Linked DNA regions of Homo sapiens. The protein of the gene in region 2 interacts with the protein of the main gene of each other region in a pairwise test. Each region holds a gene or a part of one and is shown on either strand. Other genes may lie near its edges.

The links.
Region 1: the proteins of RNASE1 (region 2) and TRIM7 interact in binary tests that used the Homo sapiens proteins (3 or more experiments, as listed by UniProt).

What each region holds. Positions count from the first base shown.
Region 1 is NC_000005.10:181,187,055-181,202,928, forward strand, and holds the end of TRIM7 (E3 ubiquitin-protein ligase TRIM7), read right to left. Parts: exon of another isoform or gene 15,534-15,874; intron 13,963-15,533; exon of another isoform or gene 13,100-13,962; coding exon of another isoform or gene 13,028-13,099; coding exon 12,797-13,027; intron 12,064-12,796; coding exon 12,041-12,063; intron 11,752-12,040; coding exon 11,636-11,751; intron 11,165-11,635; coding exon 11,129-11,164; intron 9,828-11,128; exon of another isoform or gene 8,624-9,827; coding exon 8,112-8,623; 3' UTR 6,870-8,111; downstream 1-6,869. UniProt on the Homo sapiens protein: E3 ubiquitin-protein ligase that have both tumor-promoting and tumor-suppressing activities and functions in several biological processes including innate immunity, regulation of ferroptosis as well as cell proliferation and migration.
Region 2 is NC_000014.9:20,794,893-20,810,798, forward strand, and holds RNASE1 (ribonuclease pancreatic precursor), read right to left. Parts: upstream 7,953-15,906; 5' UTR 7,905-7,952; intron 7,473-7,904; exon of another isoform or gene 7,357-7,472; intron 7,202-7,356; 5' UTR 7,177-7,201; coding exon 6,706-7,176; 3' UTR 6,336-6,705; downstream 1-6,335. UniProt on the Homo sapiens protein: Endonuclease that catalyzes the cleavage of RNA on the 3' side of pyrimidine nucleotides. Acts on single-stranded and double-stranded RNA.

The DNA.
Region 1 (15,874 bases), on a different chromosome or scaffold from region 2:
TGAAGTTGCTAAGAACGTTTCTGCTCATGACTCATAAAGTCAATACATACTCTCAGTTTGTTGTCTGCTTTGTTGTTGTTGGGGCTTTTTGTTTGTTTTGTTTTGTTTTTGTTTGATTGGTTTTGGTACAGGGTCTTGCTCTGTCACCTAGGCTGGAGTGCAGTGGGGCGATCTCGGCTCACTGCAGCCTCGACCTCCTGGGCTCAGCTTCCTGAGTAGCTAGGACTATGGTCACACACCATCACGCCCGGCTAATGTTTACATCTTTTGTAGAGACAGGGTTTCGCCATGTTGCCCAGGCTGGGGTTTTTTGCTTGTTTTTCTTTAGGTTTTTATTTTATTTTATTTTTCATTGTATTTGTTTTTGATTTTTTGAAGTGAGAGTGTCGAAGTCTTCCCCTGCTCTGGAGTGCATTCCCCAAAGAGGGTGGCTTTATGACTGGCCTTCCTAAAGCAGATCCTGAGGCCTGGGCATTGAGAATCCTGTGTCAGGGCACTGGTGGAGCCGTTTCCCAGCCAGTGGCTTTGGCGGAGCGGATCCTGCCATGGTCCTGCCCTGTGGATTCGCCCCAACTCCCTGTTGGCCCAGAGCCCCTTCGCACGCTTCATAACTGAAGGAAAATATGTAAATACCCAGCGGCAAAGAGGTAGCGTGGCCGAGCGGTCTAAGGCGCTGGATTAAGGCTCCAGTCTCTTCGGGGGCGTGGGTTCGAATCCCACCGCTGCCAGTTTGTGGTAGTTTTGTCACTTTTGTCCCCTATGGGTTACAAAAGGAGTAATGGGCCCCACACATACTCGAGATGCGGGGTTCCATTTGGCAGCGTGCCGCTGTCCAGTGGATGAGCTCTGTGCCGAGCTTGTCCACAGCAAGTAAAACTGGATTGAGTTCACAGGTGCGGGTGGTTGGGAATGGAAAGCAAAAGCGTAGATGCCCTCTTCTCTTTGTGCCGCTGTGACCACCAGGTGGACATACTAGTGGGATCTTCTAGGTTAGTCTCCAGTGTAATAAGAGCGTGTAATGAGATAATAACCGCTTCGGGGCCGCGCGCGGTGGCTCACGCCTGTAATCCCAGCGCTTTGGGAGGCCGAGGTGGGCGGATCACCTGAGGTCCGGAGTTCGAGACCAGCCTGACCAACATGGAGAAACTCCGTCTCTACTAAAAATACAAAATTAGCCGGGCGTGGTGGCGCATGCCTGTAATCCCAGCTACTCCGGAGCCTGAGGCAGGAGAATGGCTTGAACCTGGGAGGCGGAGGTTGCTGTGAGCCGAGATCACTCCATTGCACTCCAGCCTGGGCAACAAGAGCGAAACCCCATCTCAAAAGAAAGGGGGGGGAAAAAAAAAAAAAACACTGTGGCATGTTTCCGCCCGGTTTCGAACCGGGGACCTTTCGCGTGTTAGGCGAACGTGATGACCACTACACTACGGAAACCCACACCTACCTCTGTCGCCATAATATTGTCTGCTAGCAGCTACTCTCCGGGTACGTTCGACAAGTGATCCCTAGCTGTAAAAGGAGAGCCCCCACAACCCTCAAGAGCATACTCTCACGTGCAGGTCTGTGCCCAAAGTCTTCACAGCAACTGTTGCTTCCGGGACGGCTCGCTTAGTCTCCTATCCACGATTCTTTCCAATCCCCAGCACTCCCGGAAATCTTGGTGATGCCTCCGCTGGACATCTTTCGGGATCAAAACTGTCAAGGTAACACAAAATTTAGTTGAAATTTAAAAAGCTGGCTCATCCAGGATTTGAACAAGAAGAACTTCAGTTGAAATGGAAAAAAAAAAATGAAAAAGTGGGCTCGTCCGGGATTTGAACCCGGGACCTCTCGCACCCAAAGCGAGAATCATACCCCTAGACCAACGAGCCGGCTGTCTAGTTGCTCGCTGAATCTTTTCATGATTGTGTTCTTCATGGCTCGATTCACCGAAAAGGCGGATTTCCGTCTGGCAGCTTGAACCCATTCTCAAGGTCTTATAGTCTCCCAAGCCCAACTTGTCCCCGCTGCCCATCTCCGCGTCTGCCACTAATTCTCAGCCGCAGGTAGCTCCACACAGGGTAAACGCTCCCTATGTCCTGTGTCCTCTGGTCTCCTGGAATCCGAATGAGCGCCTCCCTGCTCGATCCACTCGAGTAGCAGGCAGGAGCGTCCATCCGTTCTGCAGCCTGGGCGCCCCTTCCCAAGCGAGTCCAAGAAAGGCGCAAATCTTGAGGCCCAGGGGCAGGACACAGAGGTTGGTAGAGCCGGAGGGCTCGGGAGAGAGCGCAGTGCTGAGAGGGAAGGAACGCCGGACCGGCTGGGTGAGGAGCCCCCAGAAGCCGCTCTTACCGTTTTATGAAAAGATAATAAACAGTGCATACCCATTTGCAAAATCTTCAGGAAATGTAGGAAAGTGTAAGGCGGAAACGACCGATGACCAGGAACTCTGTCTTCTCGTGGAGACTCTAGCCACGGGGTTGTTGCACAGCTCGGAGGCTGGGACCCACGCGCGCGCGCTCCCGCGGTGCAGAGTCGGGGTCCTGGCTCACAGCCCTCGCAGCATTCTCCCGGGATTGCCCCCGGGCCGCCTCCAGCACAGGGCAAGCCTGAGGCTCGAGCTGGGCGGGCGCGCTCCTCTTTTCTCGCCTCAGACCTACTCTCGCCCTGCGCACTTTAATTGCACTGGTTTATTTAGTAGTAAAAATAGTGATGCGGTTTCCTGCTGTAAAATTCGCGATAATCTACTCAGAGCTGATGCACAGGTTTATTTTTGTGTCACCAGCAGAGACATTTCCTACACTGCTGTAAAACAGCGTGGGATGGTGGTTAAGCTACTCCGAGGAAACAATGCTCATTTTTCCATTCGCACGCTCGGCGATCTTGCTCCGCCGTCTGCGACCGCCACTGTCCTCGCCCCTCCTCTCTGCCTCTCCACGCTGGACTCCCCTGGGTGCCGTGGCTGGCTTTCGGCTCTTCCAGCAGTGAACATTTCAGGTGAACGGACCCGCCCCAAGGGTCCTCCCCACCCGGCATAGCTCTCCCTTGTCCCAAGCCTCGCACCCACGCCTCCCCCAGCAGCTGGACAGGAGCGCCAGCCTGGGAGACCTCCCGGCACCTCACCCAGATCCCACCTGATTCAGCCAGGTGACCCGTGAGTGTACGGGAGCGGCTGTAACGCCCAGACTCTGAGAGCCCCCGAGTGCGAGGCCTGAGGTTCATCCACCTGTCTCTTCGATGATTATGGGGACCGCCTGCCAACACCCCCACACACAAGCAGACGCACGCACCCTGGGAGTCCACGGCTTTCGTCGGGAGGGTATCTGTAGTTAAGCCGTCAGGTAGCTCGCCACTGGTCCCCGTGACCCGACTTCTACAGTGGGGTGATCTTCCTGTGGGGCAGGCGTTTCGGGGTCCACGAGTCCGAGGAGCCCCGGGAGCGCTAGTGCCCGAACGTGCTGGCAGGCTCCTGGCCTCTCCCGAGCGAATCCATCCCGGTCTTGACCCACGGTCTCGGCTCTTTGGACCGGAGCAGGCATGGGTGAGAGAGGGAAGCGCATACCTCCCGGCCGGAGCCGCAGACCCCGCTCGCTCCTCCACGCCTCCCAGTCAAGGCAGTCACCCCTCCGGTCTCTACCCAGGTGGCCCCGAGCGATTTTCTCTTCTCTGGTTCACCGGACAGGGATTCCGTTTTCGAACCTTGAGCTACCCTGGAGTGGTCCCGGTATAAGCCGCGGCCCCACCTGGGACGGGGACTCGCTCAGAGCTTTTTTGAGGTTCCCTCCGGCTGGAGAGAGGGCGCCTGCGACAGGGGAGTGTACGGCGGGACCCAGCGCCGCCTCCACCTGTGCCCAGGCCTCCAAAGTGCGCGGTGCGGGGAAGACGGAGGCGGGAGCCGTCCCGAGACCCCCAGGGGGCCAGTCCTGCACCTGGGCAGCGCCCCCACTGTTCACTGAGGACTTGGGCTCACTTTCTACACTTCCGTTAACAGCAAGAATAAATCAGTCAGAAGGCCAGCATACCTTAGTTATATATTTTGTCTAAAATAAACTAAAATTTTGTTTTAGGCTGAAAGCGAATGTGACAGGTAGAGCCGTTACTCCCGGGTCATGAATGTGGCCGTCTGCGCTTTTCCGTGTTAACTCCACAGGAAGAAATCAGACCTTGCAGCACGGAGGCGGCGGGGACCCGAAGGCCGAGGGCGCGCAGCCGCCAAGCGCAGAGCCGCAGACCAGAGCCTCAGCGCGCGCGTCGGGGAACGCCGCAAACAAACGCATGGCGGGAAGGGGCGCGGTAGTGCCATCGTCTCCCCCTGGAGAGAGGGAAGGAGACACGAGGGCGAGTCCCTAGCTGGAGTGGGAAGACCGGAGAGAAGCGGAAAGACGCTCCCGGGGAGCGCGCAGAAGGAAGTGAGCGGGGTCGTGGGGAGAGGGCGCGCGGGGCCCAGGGAACCCGTGATGGAAAAGGAAGCCCGCAGTGGGTCTGACTCTTCAAGAGATAAGGAAGTGGTAGGAAAGTAGCCTTGCGCGGTGGGTATCTTAGAGGCAAAAAGAAAGTGACTCCGCCAGGCTCTGGCCTCCCAGGAAGGCGGAAGTAGGCTTGCCTATCTTCCACTTTTCTATCTTTAAGGAAAGAATAGGAAAAGACGGAAGCAGGCCCCAGCGAGATTTGAACTCGCGACCCTGGTTTACAAGACCAGTGCTCTAACCCCTGAGCTATGGAGCCGGCTGTTGGTTTCCTTTTGACACAAAAGCAGTTGACGCTGTCGCCGGCGCCGCGCAGCCGCAGTCCGCTGAACCCTCGGCCGAGTTCTGTGGCTGCTGGACCCAAGCTCCTCCCACGGCCGCAGCCATCTTGCCCGTGCGTCCGTGGCACGGAACGGCCGTTAGTCCCGGCAGAGGGCTCCGCGAAGACAGTGCCGTCGTTGGGCGCGCGCGCGGGCGGGAGCTGTCGGGGCGGGGCGGCACCGCCGAGCTCCGAGCTGTGAGGACCGCCCCGGGCCTTGGGCGGGGCGGGGGCCAGGGAAGGGCGTGCGCAGGATTGGGGAGCACGTTTTGCGTCTTGCTGTGCGTGAGGAAGCGGGGATCCAGGTCAAGGCTATGGAAAGGTCAGGGAAGGGTGTCAGTGCGCCCGTCCTGCAGGGAGTCCAGATCCGAGAGGTTAGGGCGGGACCTGGGGCGAGCTGGGCGGTGGGGGAACAGTGGGGTCATCAGGAGGTGGAGGCCCAGCGGGAGTGTGGCGGGGGAGGCGGGGAATCAGGAGGGCCAGGTGTTTGGAGGCGCTGGGGTGGGAAGGGTCCAGGCGAGGTTGCGGGTGGGTGCCAGCCCCGTCTCACATTTGGATGAAGTAGGAAAAGGCAGCTTTTAGGGTACACCCTGACATGTTCTGTCAGGGCCCTTAAAGGGCCCACGGGCCGGAGGAGAGGGGAAAAGGATGAGGGCTCAGCCTGGCAAAGGACAGAAAGTGGTGGGTGTAGGAGGTGGACCTTGGTCTGGTGGCCTAGCCTGCCCTGTGCTCCCTGCAATGCCGGGTGACTTGGGTCACTGGGCGGCCAGGCCAGAGGTGGGCCTCTAGGTGCCCCCCATTCTGGATGCTGAGGGTCCCTGTGAGGGTCTGGCGGCAGAGGCCTGCGCTTATGGGTCAGCAGCTAGGACTGATGGGTTGAATAAGAAGGGCCCAAGTTAGGCCAGTTGTTCTCACAGACCCAGAGGTCCCTAGAGTTTATGATGCCCAGAGTCTAGGAGAGGGAAATGCACACACATGCCCTCGAGGACACCAGCATCCTGACATCCAAGTTACTGTACTGCCCTGGTTAGCAAGAAAGAACATCTGTTCCCTTCTCTATGCAATTGTTACAGTAACTGTTGTTACATTTCTTAAGATACATAGCTATATATGTAGTCACTCTGCAAACACACACACTCTGATAGACACACGATTGCACTCATGGACACAAAAACGGAAAATAAACATGCGGACAGCTACTCCCAGTCCCCAGACCTGACCCTCATGTGACACCTTCACCAGACATGGTACTTTCTGGGACCTGTAATGTGTGTTGTGATGCCCAGCACATTTGTTGGATGGTACAAAGGGAATTATGATACTTAATCAAAAAGCCATACAAGCCAGATAACATTAAGGCTTAACGGTAACAATAGGTGATTCAGTTAGGAAATTAATGTTAGAGATCGGTTTTCCTTGTGGAAATCAGTGGTATTCAAATGCCTGAATTGGCTACCCGGTTTTAGAGCTGCTCTCCATGTATGAGCAGGACATAGGATTCACTCTCTGGAATGCTTCTGTAGGCAGGACTTTGAAATGACCCTGTCCTCAGCCTGGAGGATGCGGTATTCTGATTGTCTGGTGCTGTGTCAACTGGGCCTGCCTCTGGGATAGTGTTGTGGCTGCCCCACGAGAACCCTATATGCCAGGTGAGCTTGAAGCACCTCAGAGACAGAGCACTGAAGCTCCATGACACAGGGCTATTCAGCTATCATTGCCCCTGTTTGCCAGCACCTCTGTCTAAATAACTTGTGTGGGACAGAATTAGGTCCGAGTCTGGTATTCTGTTCATCTAGCCTGGTAGCCAGGTAGTGAGAGAAGAAACCTGTGGCCCTTGTCTAAATATGAGGTGGTCAGTATTTAACAACAAATCAACAATAGGGTATGACCAGACTGACTTGGGTCTGTTTGCAACACCTGAACCTTATGCACATGCTCATAAATGCCCTCTCCAAAATACACACACACACCCCCAAGAAAGGTGAGATACAAATACACACTCCTCCCACACAGAAACATGCATGCTCATTCACTCTGGCAGAAACCCTGATCACACTTACGCTCCTGCACTCAGATCTAGGGAGTAGAAAATGGGCCAAGCCAACTCCAAAGACAGCTCATAGTTTCATTTTCATCTCCTCACCCCCTTCCCAGGGGAGCGCTGAGCAGGGAGTAGCCCACTGCCACCCTTCCAGAAGCCCAGCTACCCAGAAGCTGGAGAACAAGTAGACAAGGGGCTGAGGCTGGCCAGGGGAATGCCCTCCAGGGCATGGGCTGAGAAGGCCTTGGCACCAGGGTGCTCTGCTGTTGGCATTTTCCTGAGTCCGTCAGGAGCATATTTGTGCTCTGTGTGTTGTTTAGAGCTGGCTGCATCTTTAAAATTGTAAGTGCCAACTTGTGTTTTGTGTTTCAAAGTTCCAGAAGCAAAAACAAAAAAAGTTCGGGTACAGCGGCTCACACCTGTAATCCCAGCTCTTAGGGAGATGGAAACTGGAGGATCACTTGAGGCCAGGAGTTCAAGACCAGCCTGGGCAACATAGCAAGACCCAGTCTCTTAAAAGAAAATTAAAAAGAAAGAGTAAATAAAGTTCCAGAAGCTTTGCTCTCCTTATCCAAGCAGCGTTTGTACTTTGGCACTGGAAAGTGCGGGAGTCAGGGGTTTGTGAGAGCACGTGTTGGTTGTCGCATTGGTCAGGATGCACCCATCACTCTGTATCCTCCGGCTAAGGAGTGCTGGAGAGCCGTGATGCCCACTGGCTGTTGTCCCGGGCTTGTCACTCAAAGACGGGACAGATGTCTCCTTCCAGTTCTGGCCCAGACTGTCCTCTGAGCTGGGAGCACAGGGCTCCTCCCTGAGTAGATGACCTGTCAGGTCAGCTGGATCCAGAGGTCCCACAACCTCTCAAGGCAGAGCTGGCAGCTGTCCAGAAGGCAGCAGCCATGATAACAAACGTGGTTGGCCCAGGCCCAGACCTGCCCCCTGGCAACAGAGAACAGCAGGACTGGCTTTGACATTGTTTTAGGGAGCCAGGCACCCTTCCCAGTCAGGGCAGAAGCCCCCTGGAGAGCTGGGCTCCTGACCTCACCGGCCTCCACCTCCTGAAGGCTCTGGCCAAATCCACATGTGACCTCAGGAAGGGAACACCCTCAGGAGTCCAAAGCCCCTGTTCCCCTGCTCGGTTGGCCACAGTCACTCTCCTGCCTCGGGGTTGTGTCTGTAGCAGGCTCTCTTGGGCAGCAGGGGTCAGGAGCACGGAGGGCAGACCCAAGACGGACCAGGCATCTCTGGGGAGGCGACATCCCCTCCCACCGGCAGCCCAGAGACAGGAGCTCCCCAGCAGTGCCCCTCAAGGCCAGATTCGCAAGTAGGTGCCCGTGGAGCAAACAGAGAAAAGCGGGAACACGCGCTCCTGGAAGTTGACGCGGAAGGTGTAGAGGTGGCGCATGTCCTCCACAGCGTAGAAGGACACGGCTCCCACCTCCAGGTCCAGGGCCACCCGCACGCGCGACAGGTGCCCGCAGCTGAGGGGCGACCGCTCGGGGCTGGTCACGGCCCAGTACTGGCCGCCGTTGAGCTGCAGGGCCCAGACGCCCTCCTCGGGAGTGAAGGGCGTCAGGCCCTTTCGGCGCACGCTCTCGCGGGCCACGCCAAAGGCCCAGCCGTCCTTAGAGCCCACCTCCACCTCCCAGTGATGCCGGCCCGAGGAGAAGCCGCAGGACGCCAGGACGCGGGTGTTGGTGTCGAAGCGGCAGGGGTGGTTGGGCAGGTCCTGGGCCCGCTCGCCGAGGCGCACGCCCTTAAGATCCAGAGAGAGGATGAGGCGCGGGTTGGCCGTGTCGGGATCCAAGGTGAGCTCCACTGCAGACAGAGACAGGGAGAAATGTCCCCACGCAGCCAGGCCCCTGGCACAGTCTTTGCAGGGCCGCGCCCGACCTTGCTTTGCAACCTGCCTGCCTTTCCCTCTAGAATCCCCCCAGCACCCAGCGCCAAGGCCCAACCAACCCCCACGCTCTGCCTCCCAGAGATTTTGCTTCCCCCCGCCCCGACCACTCAACAAGTACTTACTGAAATCAAACAAATGCAATGTGTGGGCCTGGTTTGAACCCCAATTCAACAGATGGGGATATTTGAATGCTAGACATTGGAAAGAATCATTAATCTGTCCAGGTGTGAGGACTGCTTTGTGGTTATGTTTTACAAAGTCTGTTTCTTTAGAGATAACACACTGAGGTATTTATGGCAATGATATGTTGTCTCTGATGCTTTAAAATAATACAGTAGGCCAGGCGCAGTGGCTCACGCCAGTAATTCCAGCACTTTGGGAGGCCAAGGTGTGTGGATCACGAGGTCGGGAAATCAAGAACATCCTGGCTAACATGGTGAAACCCCGTCTCTACTAAAAATAAAAAAATAAAATAAATTAGCCGGGCGTGGTGGCGGGCGCCTGTAGTCCCAGCTACTCGGGAGGCTGAGGCAGGAGAATGGCATGAACCCGGGAGGTGGAGATTGCAGTGAGCTGAGATCACGCCACTGCACTCCAGCCTGGGCGACAGAGCAAGACTCTGTCTCAAAAATAAAAATAATAATAACAATAATACAGTGGAGGCCGGGTGAGATGGTGCACAGCTGCGATACCAGCACTTTGGGAGGCCAAGGCCAATGGGTCACATGAGGTCAGAAGTTTGGGACCAGCTTGGGCAACATGGCGGAAAACTTGTTTTGTATTTTCTCTACTAAAAATACAAAAATTAGCCCGGCATGGTGTCCTGTGCCTGTAATTCCAGCTGTTTGGGAGGCTGAGGCATGAGAATCGCTTGAACCCAGGAGGCAGAGGTTGCAGTGAGCAGAGATCAGGCCACTGTACTCCATGATCTCACTCCAGAGTAAGACCCTGTCTCAGAAAACAAAATAATCCCACAGGAAGTGGATAGCAGTGTCTATGAAAACTGTGGCCACTAATTGATCACTGCGGACGGTGAGAGATGGGTATGTAACATTCTTTACACTCTTCTCTCTACTTTTGAGTATGTTTGAAATTTTTCATAATAAAAAGTTAAGGCCAGGTGTAGAGGCTCATGCTTGTAATCCTAGCACTTTGGGAAGCAGAGGTGGGAAGACAGCTTGAGCCCAGGTGTTGGAGACCAGCCTGGGCAATATAGCGAGACATCCGTCTCCACAAAACATAGAAAATTTAGCCAGGCATGGTAGTGTGCTCCTGTAGTCCCAGCTACTCGAGGACGCCCAGGAGAGAGGATCGCTTGAGCTTGCGGGGTGGAGGCTGCAGTTCCACTGCACTCCACCCTGGGCAACAAAGCGATACCTTGTCTCCAAAAAAAAAAAAAAAAGTTAAAATATGTACACTTACTGTGAGCACTACTACGATTGAGGCCCTGGGGGTACCACAGAGTATCAGAGTAGTCCTGCCTGCCTGCAGCTTCCTTCCCACAGGGAGAGGATTGAGGATAGATTATAAACAGAAGATGAGAGGGACCAGAAGAGCAGGCTGTAACTTCAACCAGAGTGGCCAGGGAAGACCCTCACTGAAAAGGGGCATCGAGCAGACAGATATAAAGAAGGCAAAGAAGCAGGCCACAGGACTGGCTGGGGAAAGCATGCTCCAGGTAGGGGCCTGGGGTGGGGGAGCCTGGCAGTGCAAAGGCCCCGGGATGGGTGTGTGCTTGGTACACTGAAGGAACAGCAGGGAGGATGTGTAGCTGCGTGGAGTAGAAGGGGTGTGCAGTGAGGCTAGAGCCCGTGGGCCCTTGAGACCTCCATGGGGACTCTGACCTTTACCAAGTCAGAGGGGCTGTGGCAGGGCTCTGAGCAGAGGAGGGCCTGGTCTCACTCAGGTGTTTTAGGTGGCACCCAGACACACTCTGACTTAGCTCAGACATCAGCATCAGGAATATGTGCCCTCCCCTCCCCTCCTCTGGGTGTTGGATGCCACACATTCCAGAGCTTTGCAAGAGTAAAAACGATATTCCTTCCAGTCTTTAGCTTCCCCTTGCTTTCCTGGTCCCCTGTATACACCCCATTCCCAGGAGAGGTTTCCATCCATCTTGGAGTGGGGACCGGGTAGAGGCTCACCCAGGTGGCCGAGAAGCCTTTCCCAGTCTGAGTATCTCGAGGTACAGGGCATTCCTGCTCCTAACCAACCTGCAGCATTTGGGCCAACATCTGAGGGTGTCAGAGCTCCCAGGATGGGGAGGGGGTGGTGTGGGGGAGGGGACAGAGGAACAGGGTTGCTGAGGTGGGTGGGCTGAAGGAACCGACCATATGCAAAACCCTGAGATGGTCACGAGCAGGGAGTAGGATCTCTGTGTGGCAGACAGTCCATACTCGCCATCACAGCACCATCCCTACCTTTCTCCTCTTTCTCCAGCTCTCCCCGAAGGTCCTCTGAGGAGGAGAAACAAAGCAAGGCGTGCATGAGCGACACGGGAGATTATATGGCAAGGTCACCAGCTCTTTATATCCCAACTGACTCATTCATTCCCCAGAGACTCCTAAGGCCAAGAGTGAACGTGCAGGCACAGGGCCAAGCATGGGGAGCGGGGGGCAGGGGGCCCATACCCAAGCATTCTAGCTCTACCCAAGTGGCTCTGAGCTGAGCTCCCCTGCACAGCTCTCTTCCTAACCCCAGTCCCCCAGCAGTACCCCTCTACCCCATCTGTGCCCATGAGAAGCGGCATGCCCTGCGGGGGCCTGACTAGATTTGCCACCACAGCCCCTACACCAATCTGGCCATGGCACAGCCAGCTCCTATTTTCACACACAGCTTCTGGAAAGCACACCCAGGGACCCCTGAGCTACCAGGAACCCTCCACCACCACCGCACTATGTGGCCCAGCTTGGCGCCCAGGCCCCTACCTTTGAACTTCTTCAGCATCCCTTTTAAGACAAAGGTCTTGAGAGAAACATTCCAGACTTTATTCTTCATCTCAGAAGAGACTGTGGTTGGCTTGGGGCCAGGCACATTGCTACACCTGCAGGACAAGGGCTCTGAGAAGGGCCTGTGTGCACCATTTTGCTCCCACAGGCTGTGACAATTAGGATGGCGAGGTCCTCTTGGCAGAAAGAGGTAGAAAAGGGAGAGCCAGACCTCATGCAGAAAAACCCATGGCCAGGCAGGTGGGCGTTTGTCTCGGAAGGTCCCCAGGCAAGCAAGTCGGGGGATCAGGAGGTGAGAGGTCAGGGGACAGGGAATAAAGACAAGGCTCAGTGAAAAGGGAAGAAGCAACTTAGAGAGGCCCCAGGAGCTGTGAGGTCACTCACCTGCTCAGCGTGCTTTTGAATTCCTGGAAGGAAAGATAGAGGAAACCAAATCAGCATCAGGTAACCTCCATTCACCTCTGAGAAACAAAGCTTGCCCCTTGCTGTGCCTCCCAGATGTAAGCATAAGCAAGTGTGCCACGCCTCACTGCCTGCGTGGGCCTCAGGGGCAGCAGCTTCCAGTGGCTGCTGGCTGCAGGGTGTCTCACCCACGCAGTGGACCTCTCACCCTTTGCCACAACTCTTCACGTGCTTTCTTTCTATCTTTGCTGCTTTCTTAGTTACAGAATCATCACTGGAGCTATCCCATGGGACCCAGTGCTGCGTGTGTCCTGGAAACCACCTGAGGGAGGTCACAGCCCTTATGCACCTACTGCTCACTCAGCCCCATAATGACTGTTCTTAACCCATCTATGGATTGTGAAGTTTATCTAGTTGTTTATAACTTTTTTTTTAGCGAAATAGAATAGAAAACATCAAAGTGCATACGTGTAGCAAAGGTGAGTATTATTTTCTGAGACTTTTGTCTCAAGCTTGTGATTCTGAAATACGATATATATTATTGTGGCTCATAGTCAAGAAAGTTTTCACATCTCTCTAGACCTCCAACCCCAGGAAAATCAGGGCACTTCTCTCCAGTCCCCTTCAGCTCCAGATCATGTGATTCTCCTAGACCCCCCAGGACTGACACTGTTCTCTAGCTGCTGGTCCTGATGCCTTAGGATAAATGACTCGAGCCCCTGGCTGAGCCAGACTTACCTGGAGAAAGTCAAGGTCAGGCTTTTGAGCTGTCTCCTGGATCTGGCTGCTGAGCTTGGACAGCTGGGTGATCTCAACCCCGAGCTGGGCCAGGTTCTCATTCTGCTTCTGTGCCACCTCCCGGGACAGTTCCTCCAGGCGGCCTAGCAGCCGACCCTCCTGCTCCACCAGGAAAGCCCTCAGTGCCTGGAACTCTGCCCCCACCTTCTCCTGCTCCGCTGCCATCTGTTTCTGTCCCAGGAGGAGAAGTTGGAGAGGGACTTGAACATGGAGACATAACATTTGGCCAGTGGCCTGAGTCATCCCACAGGGCAAGGCTTCGTCCCTGTCACTGCTGGAGGATCGGAGACACACCCACCTACGCACGCAGTGCGTGCTCTATTGTCAGTGTCCCAGCTCTGAACAAGCTGTAGTCTGGACACATGCTCTTTTCTCCCCTGCCACAGATGCACCCACACATGTCTGTGGACCTGTGCTCCATCACCTAAACCAAGGCAGCTTCATACTCCCCCCAGAACTACGCCAAGCTGCAGCTTCCTCACTTGAAAAGCAGAAGGGATAAATTAGTGCCTCCTGGGGCAACCATAGGATTAAACTGAGATTGCTTTTTCTTCCTCAAGCACATTTATTTCATCACCCTCAAACTTTTACACTTCACTTTCTTTTTAAAGGCCATCTTTCCTGTTTAGCAGTTATAATGCTAACACATGCTCAAAATACAAAACTTGGGAGATGTAGGAAAGTAGAAAGAAGGAAGAAAAGTCCGATGCCAGTGACCAGAGGTAGCAGCACACCCCCAAGGAACGAAGTGAGAATATGCGGCATGCAAGTGTCATATTCTGTTCTTTCCATTAACAGCATACACCGGATTTTTTACTCGAGTTTTCAGATGCAGACTCATGCCCTGATCTCTTGATTTTTTATGTGAACACACGTTTGGCACTCAATATGTCCCACCAGGAAGTTCCTCTTCCTTAAAACTCCTGGGCGGAGGAAGGGAGTCCTGTGAAGTTGGGAGACCTGGGTTCAAGGTGTCCTACAATGCCCCCACCTTTCCTTCAGCTTCCAGGCAGGCTGCAGTAGCCTGGAGCGCCTTATGGATATTAACTCCCTCAACCCTGACGGCAGCCCAGTGGGGAGGGTGCACTTCCCTTCAAGTCTTACAGGTGAGGAGACAAAAGACAGACACATCACCAGGAAGTGTTAAGCCAGGCTTCTCGGCCAGTTGCCTCACAAGGAGGTAGCACAAGTGAAACAGTATTTGCCAAAATACTCTAAGCCAGGGTTTCCCAACCTTAACACAGTTGACATTTTGGGCCAGATACTTCTTGGTTGTAGGGGGCTGCCCTGTGCCTTGTAGGACATTTAGCCGCCCCTCTGGCCTCTACCACGAAATGCCAATAGCATCCCTATCCCATTGTTGACAACCAAAAATATAGTATCTCCAGACTTTGCCAGATGTCCCCTGGGGTAGGAGCATTTTCAAATAAGAGCATTCCTTCTCCCTTTTGTGTTGCAGCAATAGTTGGGCTCTACCTCTGATGTTTCATTAAGCAGGGTATTGTAAATGAGACAAGTGTCATAAATCCAGAAGTATTTTATTGCTGCAAAGAACAGGTAGAGCTCACACCTGTCATCTCAGCACTTTGGGAGGCTGAGGGGGGCAAAGTCAGGGGAGAAGGTTGCTTGAGCCCACGAGTTCCAGACCAGCCTGGGCAACACAGGAGACTACCCCCAACCCCAGCTCTACAAAAAATAAATTAAAAATTAGCCGGGTGTAGTAGTGCACACCTGTAGTCCCAGCTACTCAGGAGGCTGAAGTGGGGGGATCGCTTGAACGACTCCAGCCTTTGTGACAAAGTGAGACTCTGTCTAAAAGCAAAGCAAAACAAAACAACAACAAAAACGAATGTGGGGGTGGATGGATGGATGTTGGGAGAGGACAGAGGTGGAAGGTGTTAAGCAAGGCCTGGGGACTCCGGTCAGAGACTGTGAAGCTGCCGCCGGTGCCAGGGAAGGCCCTCTGGTTCCTGGATGTCAACCAGTGGGGGAAGAGCTGCATTGGGAGTCATTTCTCCAGTGGAGGAGGGATGAAGGTCTAGAGGGTGAGCTCTTCCTCATGGAGGAAAGTGAGTGATGAGGTAGGAAGGTCTGGGATGCACACTGGGTGCAGGCATAACAGATATAGTTGAGGGTCTGGAAAGGACCCTAGGGTGTCTGAACTCCAGGCTCCTCCTCCACCCCTCCTGACATTGAGGATGGGAGGGTCCTCTAGTTCACCTTCCTTCAATTCCCTGCCTTGACAGGTCCTAGTAGATCCTTTCATTCTTTTTTTTTTTTTTTTTTGAGATGGAGTTTCACTCTCGTTGCCCAGGCTGGAGTGCAGTGGCATGATCTTGGCTGACCGCAACCTCTACCTCCCGGGTTCAAGTGATTCTCCTGCCTCAGCCTCCCGAGTAGCTGGGATTACAGGCATGTGCCACCACGGCAGGCTAATTTTGTATTTTAAGTAGAGATGGGGTTGCTCCATGTTGGTCAGGCTGGTCTGGAATTCCCAACCTCAGGTGATCCGCCCACCTCGACCTCCCAAAGTGCTGGGATTACGGGCGTAAGCCACCGCACCCAGCCAATCCTTTTATTCTTTCAACACCTATTTACTGAGCTAGGAACTGAATTTGCAAGGTAGAAAATGACCGATGGTGATTCATGTTTGCTTATCTTTTTTTTTTTTTTTAAGGTGGAGTCTCGCTCTGTCTCCCAGGCTGGAGTGCAGTGGCGCGATCTCGGCTCACTGCAAGCTCTGCCTCCCGGGTTCACACCATTCTCCTGCCTCAGCCTCCGGAGTAGCTGGGACTACAGGCGCCCGCCACCACGCCCGGCTATTTTGTATTTTTAGTAGAGACAGGGGTTTCACCGTGTTTGCCAGGACGGTCTTGATCTCCTGACCTCGTGATCCGCCCACCTCGGCCTCCCAAAGTGCTGGGATTACAGGCGTGAGCCACCCTGCCAGGCCTCATGTTTGCTTATCTTAACCAAAATGAGCCCTCGTTTCACTTTCCTGTTCTACCCTAAGGAAGA
Region 2 (15,906 bases):
GTGATAGTTATCAGGCATACAAGCATAAGAATTCTCCCTTCTTAGCTTTCCCCAGCTCTATTGTCAGGATTTTTGTTGTTGTTGTTGTTTGTTTGTTTTTCTGAGATAGAGTCTCACTCTGTCACCCGGGCTGGAGTGCAGCTGTGCAATCTTGACTCACTGCAATCTCTGCCTCCTGGGTTTAAGTGATTCTTGTGCCTCAGCTTCCCAAGTGGCTGGGATTACAGCTGTGCCACCAAACCCAGCTAATTTTTTTTTTTTTTTTTTTTTTTTTTAGTAGAGACGGGGTTTCACCATTTTGTCTAGGCTGGTGTGGAACTCCTGGCCTCAAGTGATCCGCCCACCTTGGCCACCCAAAGTGTTTAGATTACAGGCGTGAGCCACTGCACCCAGGCTTGTCAGGGTTTCTTTAACATTAGTGACTCCGTTTTGATTCTGACAACTTTCACAAAACTTTCTCTTAATTGTACTTTCTTATCATCACCCAATTTTTTATATATTGTATATATTTTAATTTTTTTCTTTTGATTTCTTCTTTGACCCAAATGTTACTTAGAAAATGTTATGTTAGGCTGGGCGCAGTACTTCGCACCTATAATCCCAGCATTTTGGGAGGCTAAGGCGGGTGGATCACCTGAGGTCAGGAGTTTGAGACCAGCCTGGCCAACTTGGTGAAACTCCATCTCTACTAAAACCACAAAAATTAGCTGGGCATAGTGGTGTGTGCCTGTAGTCCCAGCTACTCAGGAGGCTGAGGCAGGAGAATCTCTTGAATCCAGGAGGTGGAGGTTACAGTGAGCCAACATCATGCCACTGCACCCCAGCCTGAGAGACAGAGCAACTCAAAAAAAAAAAAGAAAATGTTATGTTACATTTCATGTGTATATATACGCACGTGTATATATACTCACGTGTGTATATATATACACGTGTGTATATATACACACACATATATAATATAATATATATAATATAATATATATAATTTATATATGTGTGTGTATATATATACACACACATATACACACATACACACATACATACATATATGTGTATATATATAATATATATATACATATATATATAGTGGCAATGGCGCAATCTCAGCTCACTGCAACCTCTGCCTCCTGGGTTCAAGCAATTCTCCTGCCTCAGCCTCCCAAGTAACTGAGATTACAGGCATGTGCCACCACGCCCAGCTAATTTTTGTATTTTTAATAAAGACGGGGTTTTGCCATGTTGGTCAGGCTGGTCTCAAGCTCCTGACCTCAGGTGATCCACCTGCCTCGGCCTCCCAAAGTGCTGGGATTACAGGTGTGAGCCACCATACCCAGCCTGTATCTTAGTTTTAACAAAAAAGTTTAAAAATTTTTTTAAATAGAAAAAAAAAACAGATAAGCCTGAGCAACATGGTGAGACCCTGTCTCTACAAAATATACAAAACTTAGCTGGCATGGTGACACATGCCTGTAGTTCCAGCTACTCAGGAGGCTGAGGTGGGGAGGCAGAGGTTGCCGTGAGCCAAGATTGTGCCACTGCTCTCCAGCCTGGGCAAGAGAGCGAGATCCTGTCTCAAAAAAAAAAAAAAGAAGAAGAAGAAAAAAGCTATAGAATAAGGATACAAAGAAAACATTTTTGTACAGCTGTATAATGTGTTTTAAGCTACGTGTTATTATAAAAGAGTCAAAATTTTTTTTATTTAAAAATGTATAAAGTTTAAAAGTTAAAGTAAGCTAAGGTTAATTTATTATTGAAGAAAGAAAATTTTTTCATAAGTTCAGTGTGCCCTAATGATACAGTGTTTATAAAGTCTACAGTAGTGCACAGCAATGTCCTAGGCCTGCACAATCACTCACCACTCACCCACTGACTCACCCAGAGCAACTTTTAATTTTTTTTTTTTTTTTTGAGACCGAATCTTGCTCTGTCACCCAGGCTGGAGTGCAGTGGCACGATCTCGGCTCACTGCAACCTCTGCCTCCCAGGTTCAAGTGATTCTCCTGCCCCAGCCTCCTGAGTAGCTGGGATTACAGGCACATGCCACCATGCCTGGCTAATTTTTGTATTTTTAGTAGAGACGGGGTTTTGCCATGTTGTCCAGGCTGGTTTCGAACTCCTGACCTCATGATCCACCCGCCTCGGCCTCCCAAAGTGCTGGGATTACAGGCGTGAGCCACTGCACCTGGCCGTAGCTTCTAATTCTATAAGCTCCACACATAAGTGTCTTACAGAGGTGTACCATTTCTTACCTTTTATACCATATTTTTACTGTAACTTATCTATGTTTATGTACACAAATATTTACCATTGTGTTACAATTGCCTATAGTATTCAGTACAGTAAACTGCTGAACAGGTTTGTAACCTAGGAGCAATAGGTTATACCATATAGCCTAGATGTAGAGCAAGCTATACTGCCTAGTTTTAGGTAATATAGTCTGTAAGGTTCCCAACAATGATGAAGTCACTCAATGACACATTGTATCCCCATCATTCAGCAACACATGACTGTACTTGGTGTATACACTGGTTTTATACTCACTCTTTTGAGAGTCGGTTCTTGAAATCAAGTTTAGGCCTTTCTACTGTCTCTGCCTGATCTTCTGTGCTTTCTAGATCTCTGGTTATCCCCTCTCTTGGGATGATAGAATTCATACTCCTGTGAGTTCCAGTACTAATGTTCCTGGCCCCTCTTTCATCTGAGGCCCTCAAACAAACAAAAATCATATGTTGGCACCTTGAATTATAAATACAGAAAACTGTAGTGAGACATTGTCAATTCTGTCCCCAGTCTTGATTGGTTGCATGCAAGTGATAGAATAGGATGTATGATTCTTGATTCTAAGAGTAATAGCTTTTATTATGGACAGACATTGTCCTAAATATTTTTTATATGTGACCTCAACTAATCCTCAACAAATCTCTGAAGTTGATACCATGTTTATCATGATATTTTACATAGGGAACCTGATGTTAAAAAAGTTACGTTCCCTGCCTGCGGCCACACTACTCCCAAAAGGCACAGTGGAGTGTGAAACAGGTCTGTTTCACTCCAGAGCCAAGGCTCTGAAACACCATACCCCATGCCTCGGTGATAGTGGCTAACTTTCTGAGTGTCCACAGAACGCTGAACACTACGCTTTCTCTGAATGTCATCTTTACCACAGTACTTCTAATTAAGTGTTATGAATATTTCCATTTTACAGAAGTCCCACAGGCACTTGGAGTTGTTATCCTGTCTCAGGTTTTTAAAATCCAGGCTAGACCCATAAAAAATAAGCCAATCTTTGTAACTACTGCACTCCTTCCAACCTCCATTCATTCACTCCTTCTTTCACAAATGCTAGAAAAATGTTCCTTTGACTTAAGAATGTGTATGTCCAGACATTCCCTGGATTTTAAAAGGGCAGATTTTTTTTTTGGTAGAATAGTATATCCGTCTCTCTATGTTCATTAATAGTGCATTGGGAATTTCTGAATTGAACCATATTCCAAGAGTAACTGAGAACATGAACACTCATGAACCGAGAACATGAACTGAGAACATGAAAGCTCAGCTGATGGCAGGGGAGAAGTTGCAGAGGAAGCGTGAGGGCTGTTGCACACTAACTAGCTGGAGGTACACAACTGACCAAGCATGCACGAAGGCTGCCTCGCTTCACATCTTGCCAAGGGCTTTCATGCCCCTACTTTTTCTTTTCCCCTTACAGCAGCCTCAGAAGGGACGCAGGGCCAGTTCCCTAAGACCTGTTAACGGTTTCTAAAGTCCCTCCACTCCATCCAGCTGTCCCAGGAAGAAGTAGATGTTCATTTGTCCCCACAGACACTTCTATTCACCCCACAGCCACCCCATCCCCACCACCGTGGCATCTAATTTAGACCAGCCCGCCATAGGGATGTGTCAGGGCAGCTACGGATGCAATCCAAGAGAAGTGGAAGAATTGGTTAAAGGGTGTATTCATTTCCTAGGGCTGCCATAACAAAATGGGCGGCTCAAACGATAGAAATGCATTTATTTATTTATTTATTTTTTAAAATTTTGAGACAGGGTCTCATTGTTGCCCAGGCTGGAGCGCAGCCTCGACCCCCAAGGCTCAAGTGATCCTCCATCTCAGCCTCCCGAGTAGCTGGGACTATAGGTGTTTGCAACCTTGCCTGGCTAATTTTTTAATATTTTTTTGTAGAGACGGGGGTCTCACTATGTTGCCCAGGCTGCTCTTGAACTCCTGAGCTCAAGCAATCCTCCTGCCTCAGCCTCCCAAAGTGCTGGGGTTACAGGCGTGAGGCAGCATGCCCAGCCAGAAATTCATTTTCTCACTGGAGGCCAGAAGTTCAAGAACACGGTATGGCAGGTTTGGTTTCTCCTGCTTCCTCCTTCCTTGTTCTGCAGTGAGCAGGTCTATGCCAATGTACCCCCAAGGGCTGAGGGAGATGAGAGGCCAAAGAAAGGGCTTGACTGAAGTAGGAAACTAAGAAAATAACAAATAATAGCATACGTAATAATAATAAGAGAAATAACAATAGCTCATAGAATGAATTGCTGTATTAACCAAGGCTGAAAAGAATTTAAGTAGCCCCCCTGAAGTTAAAGTTAGAAGAGAATATTAACTGTCTGTCCCAAGAAACGTTAACCATATCTATCCTCCACATATTTTGTAGGCTCTGTAAACTCCTGTTTCTTTCTTCCCTGCACAGCTGCAAGGTCACAAGACAGATAAGCATAAGCTGCAAACCAAGTTCTCACAGAGATGTAAGACATGTTCCAAAAGTGTCACAGCGGCCTTTTGTTCTCACTTCTGTAAGCCTGCTTCACTTAGTTCCTGCCTCAAAATGCTTAAAAGGGACTCATTTTCTTTGTTCTTGGGCTCAGCCTTTTAGGACACAAGTCCGCTGGGCCAGTGTACACCTTAAAATAAACACCCTCCTGCACGCCATCTGGTCTCTCTGGTTCCTTAAATCCCACTTCATGACAAGTTCAGTTTCTCAGAAAGAAACATTTAATAGGGACTTACAAATAGAAGCCATGTCTCAGGCAGCCACAAGACAGTGGATCTCCGCACAGGCCCTGCAGAAAGTATTCTTTATATGGCAAGCTTCCCCACCCCCCACCCTGTGAGATGGAATCTTGCTCTGTCACTCAGGCTGGAATGCAGTGGCGCGATGTCGGCTCACTGCAACCTCTGCCTCCCAGGTTAAGTGTTGACAGATGCCAAAGGTAGTCTTTCAGTGGCTGTCAGGAAGGGTTGCCAAGAGTGGAGTGGACTCACAGGCTAAGAACACTGGGAGCCTGTGAGAGCCCACCAGCAAGCTCTGGGAGAGAGCTACCGCTCCACAGCACTTACTGAGGAGGGGAGCTTTCTTCCTGAGTTAGAGCAATGGCTTCCTGAGTTAGAACAATGGCTTGGAAGTCAGGAAACCTAGGGTGTAGTCCCGGCTGTGCCACTAACTAGCAACAAGCCATGTGCAAGTCACCGGAAAGGCAGGGGTCACATTTGGTCAGGGATGGCAAATGTGTGGCACACACACCCTTCCCCCTCTCGTGCCTTCGATAGAGGCTGTTGTTCAACCACACCACTGTCCAGAATTTTTTGCTACAGCATTTTGGGTAGGCACTTCCTTTTTTTTTTTTTTGAAACAGAGTTTCACTCTTATTGCCCAGGCTGGAGTGAAGTGGCACCATCTCAGCTCACTGCAACCTCCGCCTCCCAGGTTCAAGTGATTCTCCTGCCTCAGCCTCCCTAGTAGCTGGATTACAGGCACCTGCCACCACGCCCCACTACTTTTTGTATTTTTAGTAGAGAGGGGGTTTCACCATACTGGTCAGGCTGGTCTTGAACTCCTGACCTCAGGTGATCCACCTGCCTCAACCTCCCAAAGTGCTGGAATTATAGGTGTGAGCCACCACGCCCGACCGGCACTTCCAATTAGAGTTGGTACACAAACTGAAATCTACTTGCTATCCCTCAATTCCGTGCTCTCCAAAGTCACTTCTGGCTCTAAAATGTAAGGTTCTGGCTTTCCAACTAAGAGGTGCCCATTTTTCTGATTTAGTAATAGCTCACTCAAAAAAAAAAAAGGAAAATGGAAATTTAGGATCATAATTTCATTGAGTCCTCTTCCCCACCCTGAGGCTAAGCAGGATCTTCCTGAGGTCACACTTGCCTTCCTTCTGTGCCAGAGAATGATTGTATTTGAGCTTCACCCCTCTGTCAGTTCACCCTGCATGGCAGTGTCCCAGGCTGTAGCTCCCTTTTGTCTAAAACAGCCCACACTTAACAGTTTTATGTTTGGCATCAGGGAATCTACAAGGAAAGGAATTTTCTCAAGCCACTAAAATCCAAGTCAGAAGGGAAGGCATTTAATTACTCCATTCACCGTTCTCCAAAGTGAATCAGATTTACAGTTCTTACCCCTTGCTGGAAGGCAATGCCAGAAACAGTACCTAGACAGAACCGCTTCAGAAATCAGGTGTTTGCAACTGCGTTTTATTGAAAGAAAGAGTGGAGGGGTTAACATGGGGCCCACCTCACAACCCACTCTTCACCCCCAAAATCACGCAGGGATGGGACTCAGGAAAGGGAAGCATGTGTGTGTTGAATAGGAGCCCTAACTGTAGTTACTTCTTTCACAGCAGGGAAGGAAGAGGGAAGAGGCAGCTGTGGAGAGGATGAGGTTGAGGGAGGTGGGGTATCTCGCTGCTCTGACCTTAGGTAGAGTCCTCCACAGAAGCATCAAAGTGGACTGGCACATATGGGCTCCCTTCACAGGCCACAATGATGTGTCTCTCCTTCGGGCTGGTCCGGTATGCACAGTTGGGGTACCTGGAGCCGTTTGTCAGGCGGCAGTCTGTGATGTGCATGCTGGAGTTGCTCTTGTAGCAGTTGCCCTGCCCGTTCTTGCAGGTGACCTTTTCCTGGAAACAGACATTCTGGACATCTACCAGGGGCTCGTGCACAAAGGTGTTCACTGGTTTGCACCGCCCCTGTGTCATATTCCGGCGCCTCATCATTTGGTTACAGTAGGTGGAGCTGCTGCTGGGGGAACTGTCTGAGTCCATATGCTGCCGCTGGAATTTCTTGGCCCGGGATTCCTTGCCCAGGGAAGGCTGGACCCAGCCCAGCACCAGCAGTATCAGGACAAGCAGAAGGAGCCGGACAAGAGACTTCTCCAGAGCCATGGTGGCCTCACTTTCCCAGAAAAGCCTAATTGAGAAAAGGAGAGAGAAGGAAAAGAGCCCTCTTAGAAAAAGAACTCCAGCTCCCACCTATGGCTTGCCTGGTTTACACTTTCTGTTTCAGGTCAGCCAGAAAGACGTCCATCCTACTTCCTGAGGTTTTTCGTGTAATGAGACACTCACGTGTACCCTTTTCCACGAGCGTTTTATTCCCACTCTCCAAAGCGAGGTCTTCCTCCCCTCTAGGTGGTGACCTACAAAGTGACCTAAAATCCTGTCAGTTCCTATCTTTGAATACTGGAGTTTCTTTGATCCAAAATACATTTGTACCCAGTGCTCAAATGGCTCATCGAAACATCAGTTTGAATAAATCATGAACCAAATTGTATCCCCGACATCCAGGGCCATGGGTGACAGAGCCTTGTTGTCTTGGAGCATAAGGGAACTCAGGCCAGTGCCTGACACTGGCATCATAAAAGATTCCATTGTATTCCAGAGAGAAACGCTGGCCTCCCCCAATTTGGAGGCTCCTTCTTCTCCAGTCCCATGGATGCTCTGCAGCCTGCACGTTCCACCCTGACCCCTCTGCCCCCAGCTGATGTTTGCCTGGGCCACATTTTTTCAGCGCTAGCATCACCCAATCTTTCTCAGTGCTGTGGACTGGCCCTAGCTCCCTCTTCTGCAACCCTGAAGCAGAAGCGGCACCTGAGAACACCTCTTGGGCTGCTTACCTGGATCTGCAGCTTGGTGTCTGAGAGAGATGGAAGGCCAGTTTCTGCAATCACTCAGCTCCCGGGGTGTGGACCTTATACAGATTACAAAGGGGTTTGGCTTCCAAGAGGAAAAGGGTGGGAGGAGCATCTGGAGCTCAGTTCAAATAAAATCAAGGACGTGAGGAAGGAGTGGTGAATCACCCAGGCCGCCGTCTTTCTAGGGCTGCTGAAGAAAGAGCAAATCTTTGCCTACGTTAGTCTTTCTTCCTATGTGAACCACATCTGTCTGCTGATGCACAAGGAGCAGCAGAGAAAGCCACTACAGCACTGGTGCCCAAACCTGGCACACTAGGAACAAAGTCCTTGTTACTTCTTCGTGGGCGTTTTCACCAAGTAGACTTGGAGGTTAACAAAGGACGCAAAGGAGAGGTTCTAATGGGAGATAGGGAATTCTGGCCAAAGCTATTCCAGGGCTCCTAGGGAGCAAAACCCAAGTCTCTTTCTAGGAGGGCATTCTCCCAACGCTACCTCTCCCGGGGATGGGAGGCGGGGTCGGGGGGAATGGAGGCTGTCCTGCTGCCCCCAGCTGGAAGGCTTCCCAGATCTGGAGAAGAAAGGGGGAGTAACTGAATAGGGAGGAGGAGGAGGCCTCTAGGGTGCGCTCACCCAGTTCTGGCCACTTCCCACCCACCCTCCACCCCTGCTCTGGGGGCATCGAGAGGATGGGGCTGTTCTTATCTACAGTAACCACTGACCCTGTAGGTCGGAATTGAGTAGAGGAACTAAAGATAAACTTAAATCCCAAATCTCAAATTCTTTTTGGGGAAAAAATACAAAGAATATCATATTTATTAGCAGCAGAATGCCCTCCTAGAAAGAGACCTGTTTTTTTGCTGAGTAACAATTTGGATACCTCTAAGAATTATCAAAATATCCCTTCGTGCTGTGTATTCAGATTGTTTCAGCCTTTCTGTGTAAAAAGTGGCCATAGTGAAATTATCTGACCTACCTTGTGTGATTGTAGGTCGTAAGATCCTCATTCCAGAGAGGGTCCTGCCCCCCATACCCAGAAAAAAAGGACGAATGCTCAGAGAGGCCAAGAAGAATCTAGACAGGGAGGCCTTGCTGGGTTTCCCCACTCAGTCTATTTTCATTAGATCGCCCTGTTGTCCAGTCATATTTCTACACAGCTGTTCATACTTTGTTGATATCCAAGTGTAAGAATGCCCACTTTCCCCTGTTATCTTTGGGTCTTCTGAAGGCTCCCGTGTCGTGTAAAACTACGATCAAATCAATTTGTATGCGTTTTTTCCTATCAATCTGTCTTTTGTCAGTTGATTTTCAGCAAACCTTTGGAGGGTGAAAGGGGAATTTTTCCTTGGCCCCTACAGTTTCCTTACTCCCCCAGCCCCCACCTGTATTTTATTTTTCTGAGTCTTTAATAATACTTTTATTCTCTTGAATAGTCAAGTTAGAATGTGTTCATTCATTCATTAGACTGTGGGATACAGACATAAATAAGGCACAGGACTCACCTGAAGGGCGCCTGGTGGGATGGTTTGGTTAGTCAGGTGGACCCCACTAAGGCACTGGGCGTGGCTGCACAAAAGTGGCCTCCACCCAGCAAGATGATTTCAGAACCACAGTTCAGATGTGAACAGATCTTCTGTAACTATAATAAGGCTCTTCAACAGCCCCTGGCCCTAGGAATCCTGAAACTACAGGAAGCCATTTTGTCTATTTATGCATAGCAATCTAGACAAGCCCTTGGAGCTTTAATTGCACTTCAATGGGGAACCATCAGAAGCCCTTACTGCAGCCTTATCCTTGACCCAGTTGCAGAGGCATAGCCCCGCTTGTCTTAGGGCAGTAGATGCCATGGCAACATTTGTTGTTGCTTCTGCTGAACTTGTTCTAGACTCCCTGCTTGACCTCCTGGTTTCTCACGCAGCACAGGCATTACACCTGACTGAGAACTCACTGCACACTTCAGGCAGCCGATTAACCTCTTATAAGATTCTATCCCTCTCTCCCTCTCATAAATTACTACTCATCTCTGCAACACACTGAATTCTGCCACCCTCTGTCCCTACCAGAAGGGGAGCCTCTTGATTGTCTTACCTCAGTAGGAAACATTCTGCATGTCAGTCAGATTTATTAGCAACTCCTATTGAGAACCCGGACCTAATATGATTTATTGATGGAACATACCCCAGAATTGAAACTTGAAGTTAGTACACTGAGGAAAGAAAAATCAATTCTTCCTTTACCCTCCTAGAGGGCTGGGGGCCCTGTAAATTAAAATGACAAAAGACAGATTTAACAGGAGAAAAGGCATAAAAATTTAATTTAATATTAATATTCTACATGAATATGGAAGTCTTCATAAAAAAAGAAGTGAAGACTCAAAGAAGCAATTAAACCTGAGAGTTTATAGGCCATTTTGACAAAGAAAATTGTGCAGAAGTGACAAGACAGTGTTCCATGAAAGGGCCACATATGTGAAGTGGCCCCAAATGCTGAAGGAGCCTAGAAACTAAAGAAAGGCAGACAAATTCAGTTTGTCAGTAAAGCGTGTTTTATTCTATTGGGGAACTTATAGCCAGAAGTGTCGTCTTGGGCAGCAGCAAGACATGTAAATCTCAGCACTGTTATTCCCCAGACCCAGAGCTTATATACCATAGGGAAAAGGGGTACGTGCTATATAGAGACAATGAAAGGCAACTCTTCAGAACAGGCAAGAATGCTGTGTTTGTCATAGCCCATAATTTGCATGATAACGTTAAGGTTGTTTTGATCTAAAGGCAGGATTTATAGTGAATACATGTTTCTACACTAGAGACAGTAAATAAAGTAGAAATCAGGAGGCATTCCCGGGACATGGTTAATCAGACGTCAACATGGTAGATTAGCATTCAAGATGGAGTCACTTTTGTCTCTGCACATAGGAAAGGGATTTTGAGCTTCTGGGGAGGTTGCGACAAGCGGACTAGGAAATGTATAGTATATAAGGGTTGTTTAGTAAAGTTTGTTAAGCAAATTCAAGTTGGTTGTCTTCTCCATTGATAAGTCCTCCGTGATTAAGTCCTCCTCTTCCTGGCACAGGAAAGGGAGACATCCATACAAATGGGAATATAAATGGAAATTTCTCTTACAAAAGGGAAACTTGGCTAGGCATAGTGGCTCACTCCTGTAATCCCAGCCCTGTGGGAGGCCAAGGCAGGCAGATTGCTTGAGTTTAGGAGTTTGAGACCAGCCTGGGCAAGGTGGCGAAACCCTTTTTCTACAAAATATACAAAACTAGCCATGCATGGTGGCATGCTCCTGTAGTCTCAGCTACTCAGGGGGATGAGGTGGAAGAACACTGGAGATGGAGGCTGCAGTGAGTCGTGATTGTACCACTGTACTCCAGCCTGGGTGACAGAGAGAGACACTGTTTAAAAAAAAAAAAAGGACATTTATAGTTCTTTCACAGCAGGGAAGGAAGAGGGGAGAGGCAGCTGTGGAAATGATGAGCCCTGTTTTTTGAGTTTTTCCTGCATTTACTGTTTTTCAAAATAATCAACTCAAAATTATTGAGCTGGCATATTCTGGTTCCCTACATTATTAATAGGCTATGCTACCCCTATTTTAAACTCTTCTTAAGAAAAAGTCTACTACCTGCAGTAAAATCAGCCCAGATAGCAAAATGTATTGCATTTACTAGAATTTGTCACCTAAACAAAGACCAGAGAGCAAACATATATACAGACTGCAGGTATGCTTTTGAAATAGCATATGATTTTGAGATGCTTTGAAAATAGGCATTAGAAGACCAGGCATGGTGGCTCGTACCTGTAATCCCAGCACTTTGGGAGGCTGAGGCGGGTGGATCACCTGAGGTTGGGAGTTCGAGACCAACCTGACCAGCATGGAGAAACCCTGTCTCTATTAAACATACAAAATTAGCCGGGCATGGTGGCACATGCCTGTAATCCCAGCCACTCAGGAAGGCTGAGGCAGGAGAATCGCTTGAACCCAGGAGGCAGAGGTTGCGGTGAGCCGAGATCGTGCCATTGTACTCCAGCCTGGGCAACAAGAGCAAAAACTCCGTCTCAAAAAGAAAAGAAAAGAAAAGAAAATAGGCATTAGAAATGGACAGCAAGTTAAGGAACTTTCAGATGCACCCCCACTTCCTAGAGAAGTGGCTATTATATAGGTAGAGGTCCATATAAAAAGAGACAATATGGAAACTAAAGGAAATTCTCTAGCAGATCATTATGCCAAAGAAGCTACTTTAACCAAGCTTATGACTCTATCTATACCTTTAAAGGATAAATCTCTGGGGGATTCAAAGAGGCCATTATAAAATATTGACATTTAGCCCCTGATTTTGAAAAAGAATGGAAAACATCTAGTTGTACTCTTCACTCAGATAATTCCTGGTGCTGCTTGGTGACACCAGATGATCTCAAGTAGATATTTCTAAAGGAGTTCAAAACATACCACCCCAAAATATGCCTTTCTGGCATATGGATTATTTTGAATTAAAAGCTCTTGAAAAACAGCAGATGCAAGAAGGGCACTCTGATCTTTCTAAAAGCAGGAGACAATGCTCCCACGTAGCAGGGACCCTCCGTGGAAGAAGGAAGACATTCTTATTACCAGAGATGGGGGCAGCTGAGGTTGAGAGAAAACTACAAATAAACCTTGTTAAACTAGCCCTTATCTCCCTAGCCACTTCTCCACGATTAACAGCCCTAGCCCATATCCCTTTGACTTGTTTTCACAATTTACTGTTCTTTGTCTAACTTAGTATATAAGCATCCACTCAGACTGGTTCATTTCCAGAAGGCTTCCATGCCATGTAAAACTTACATTAAATAAATGTGTATGCTTTTCACTTTTTAATCTGCCTTCTGTTACAGAGCCCCGCCTTAGAACTTAAGACAAATAAGAAAGATATTTCCTCCCCTACATTATCTGGATTTCTCCATGAAACACCCATTATGGCATAGACAAATTGGTTACTATCTTAAGTAAACATTGGTAGGAAAACTTTGAAAAGGCAACTGAGCTTACTTTTGGGTCATGTGTCACCTGTCAAAAATATAACTCTGGAAAAACTGTAAAGTTGGGACATGGCCAGAAACCAAAGCCTCTTTGGACACCTTCGGACTGTTACATGGAATAAAACCTTAGACAAGTGTACATTTTAGCTGAGTTTATTTGAGCAAAGAAAAGCAGAACAAAACAAAGCAAACAAAGCAAAAACAAAACAAAAAAAAGCAGTTCAAAAATCAGGCACGATTTGGAACTAGAGGAAATTCAGAGAACTCCAACCAATGACATAATCTGATAGCATTTATAGGAGACAAAAGAAGCATGGTACAGAGGCAGCTTAATTGGTTAATTGGTTACAGAGTCTCCTGCAATTAGTTAAAGCTCAGCTGCAACATATTGTAAGCCTGTAAACAACTAAGCCTAACAGATCAAACAACACACCGTATCTGTTTGATCTGTTAGGCTTAGTGCAGGAGCCCAGTCCAAATCAATGGCCTTGCTTAAATTTTATTTCACAAGACACTTCACCGGCTTTCACTCTCCCTGGGATTTGAATATGTTTTAGATATTGTATGTCTGTTTTCAGGATGAGTTGAAGAATTTCTTTGCCAAAATGCTACAGCCCTTACAGCCGTGAACAAGCTGCTTGATTTTATGTTTTCAATCTGGGGCATCCCACCTTTTATATCAAGTGACTGAGGCACACACTTTAAGGCGACCTTTATAAAAGAACTCTTACTCAAAAACTACACCATCCTTACCACCCACAAAAACGACCCATGGCATCCTTACATTAAAATAAGCAACAATTTCAGAAACCCTTGAGCTCCCTTGACCAAGAGTATATCCACTATCCTTTACGGATATACAGGCCACTTTCTTGGAGACACATAGGTTATCCCCCTATGAGTTGATACCGGGAAGGTCCATGCATTTAGAGATTTCACCTCCAATACTAGAGTCTGTCCTACTCCATGCAGACATGACAAGATACTGCAAGGGACTCATGTATTGTACGTGGTCCTATCACCAACAGGTTAAGGTCCCCTTCCTACAAAATCTTCCTAAACAACCTCTCCATGATCCTCAACTAGTGGATTTGTCTACTGGAAGAAAAATCAGAGAATAACTGCTTTTGAACTTCATTCAAAAGGAAGAGATCTTATCAGATACTGTTAACAATAGATACAGCAGTGAAACTCCAAGGAGCCAACCTTTGGGTTCATGTTTCACAACTGAAGAAGAGATTCAAAATTCCACACAGTTGGAAGGCCACTTCGATTTTGTCTGCACCATTGCCAGTGCTTCTTGTGATACTTAGGTCAAGGACACAGGCAAGGTTAAAAAAAAAAAAGACTATATTGCTTCAAAAAAAAACCTATTAATATTTGGATCTCTAAGGTCCTCATGGCTTATGGGATTTGTTTTCTTGGCCTAGGTTAAGCAATTGGAGTTCCTGGTTCTAAAGCATCTCAGAGGGACTATCAATTGTTTCTTATTTTTCTGATAGTGGTCATGATGCTAGTCTGTTCCGTTTTATCCAGAGTTTTAAATGCTTCTAGCAGCCACTCTGTCATCAGATGATTGCCATAATGATACAATAGAAAGATCAAGAAGATCTTACAATCCAGGTCACTATGAAGATGACTGAACAATTTATGATTGGTGAAGATGTGAAATTCTAACTTTCTCTGAGTTGGTCAACTTCTCAGAAGTCAGAGAATGACCAAAAGGAGGGACTGAAAGACTGACCATACAAATGAACAATGACCAGACCATATATAAAGATGGAACTCTGACCTGTAGTCTCCAGCAATAAGTATGAGAAGCCAACCCACTATATACAGCAAACAATCCAGGAAGCCAAACAACTCCTATAGCAATTGGCCCCAAACAGCTAGGACTTGATTACCCCTATTTTATTTCTTAATTTTTTCCTTGCTTGAAAGTCTCTCTTTATGGACTTGATTAATAACTGAAAAGTTCCCTAATATTTATTTCCGCTTCCCCAAATTAGGACCAATCAGAGAAAGCCAATATGCATCCCTAATCCAACACATAGGATGCCCTGCTTCCAGTAGCCCACTTACAGCTTCTGCATGCCGCAGCCTGCAACCAGAGCATCCCTGAAGCCTTTCCTGTTTTCCATTGTGAAGATTCCCACTCTCCTGCCTACTGTGAGTGTCTGCCAAATGCAAGTGATGGTGGTTACCTGCCATCTGTGGCCAACTCTGAATAAACAGCCTTTGCTTATTCTCATTTGGGTGGCTGTGCTCATTTCCACAAGCTCTTTAGAAGAATAAGGAAGTGGGTATGTACAGGGTAAGGACGTTTTTACAAGAAAAGCTCAGATAATCTGAAGGATGTCCTATCATTAGGCTGGCTACAAAAGCTCAGCACAGCCCCCCAAATACACATGTACGAGCACACACACACCCTGCATGCACGTACATACAATATGCACACACACATACAATAGATGATATTCCGGGATTCCTTTTGAACCCCAGAAAGTGAGAAGGCAAAGGAAAATTAGAACAGGAAAAGACGGAACAGTGGGGGCAGACAAAGGGAGCGGAGTGGTGTTTGAAAGTTGAAGGAAGTGAGGGGAAAGAATGCAAGAACCAGCTAAAAAAGATCCGAAGCCCGTGCTGTCCCACGCCTCTCACCCATTGCCTACAACCCAGATGCCCATGAAGATAAAGTAGGATAACAGCCAAGATGACATCCCTCAACTCATTCCCTTTATTTTTTATTTTTTTATTTTTTATTTTTGAGACAGCTGTTGCCCATCTCAGCTCACTGAAACGTCTGCCTCCCGGGTTCAAGCAATTCTCCTGCCTCAGCCTCCTGAGTAGCTGAGATTACAGGCACCTGCCACCATGCCTGGCTAATTTTTGTGGGGTTTTCTTTTTAGTAGAGATGGGGTTTCGCCATGTTGGCCCAGCTCGTCTTGAACTCCCGACCTCAAGCGATC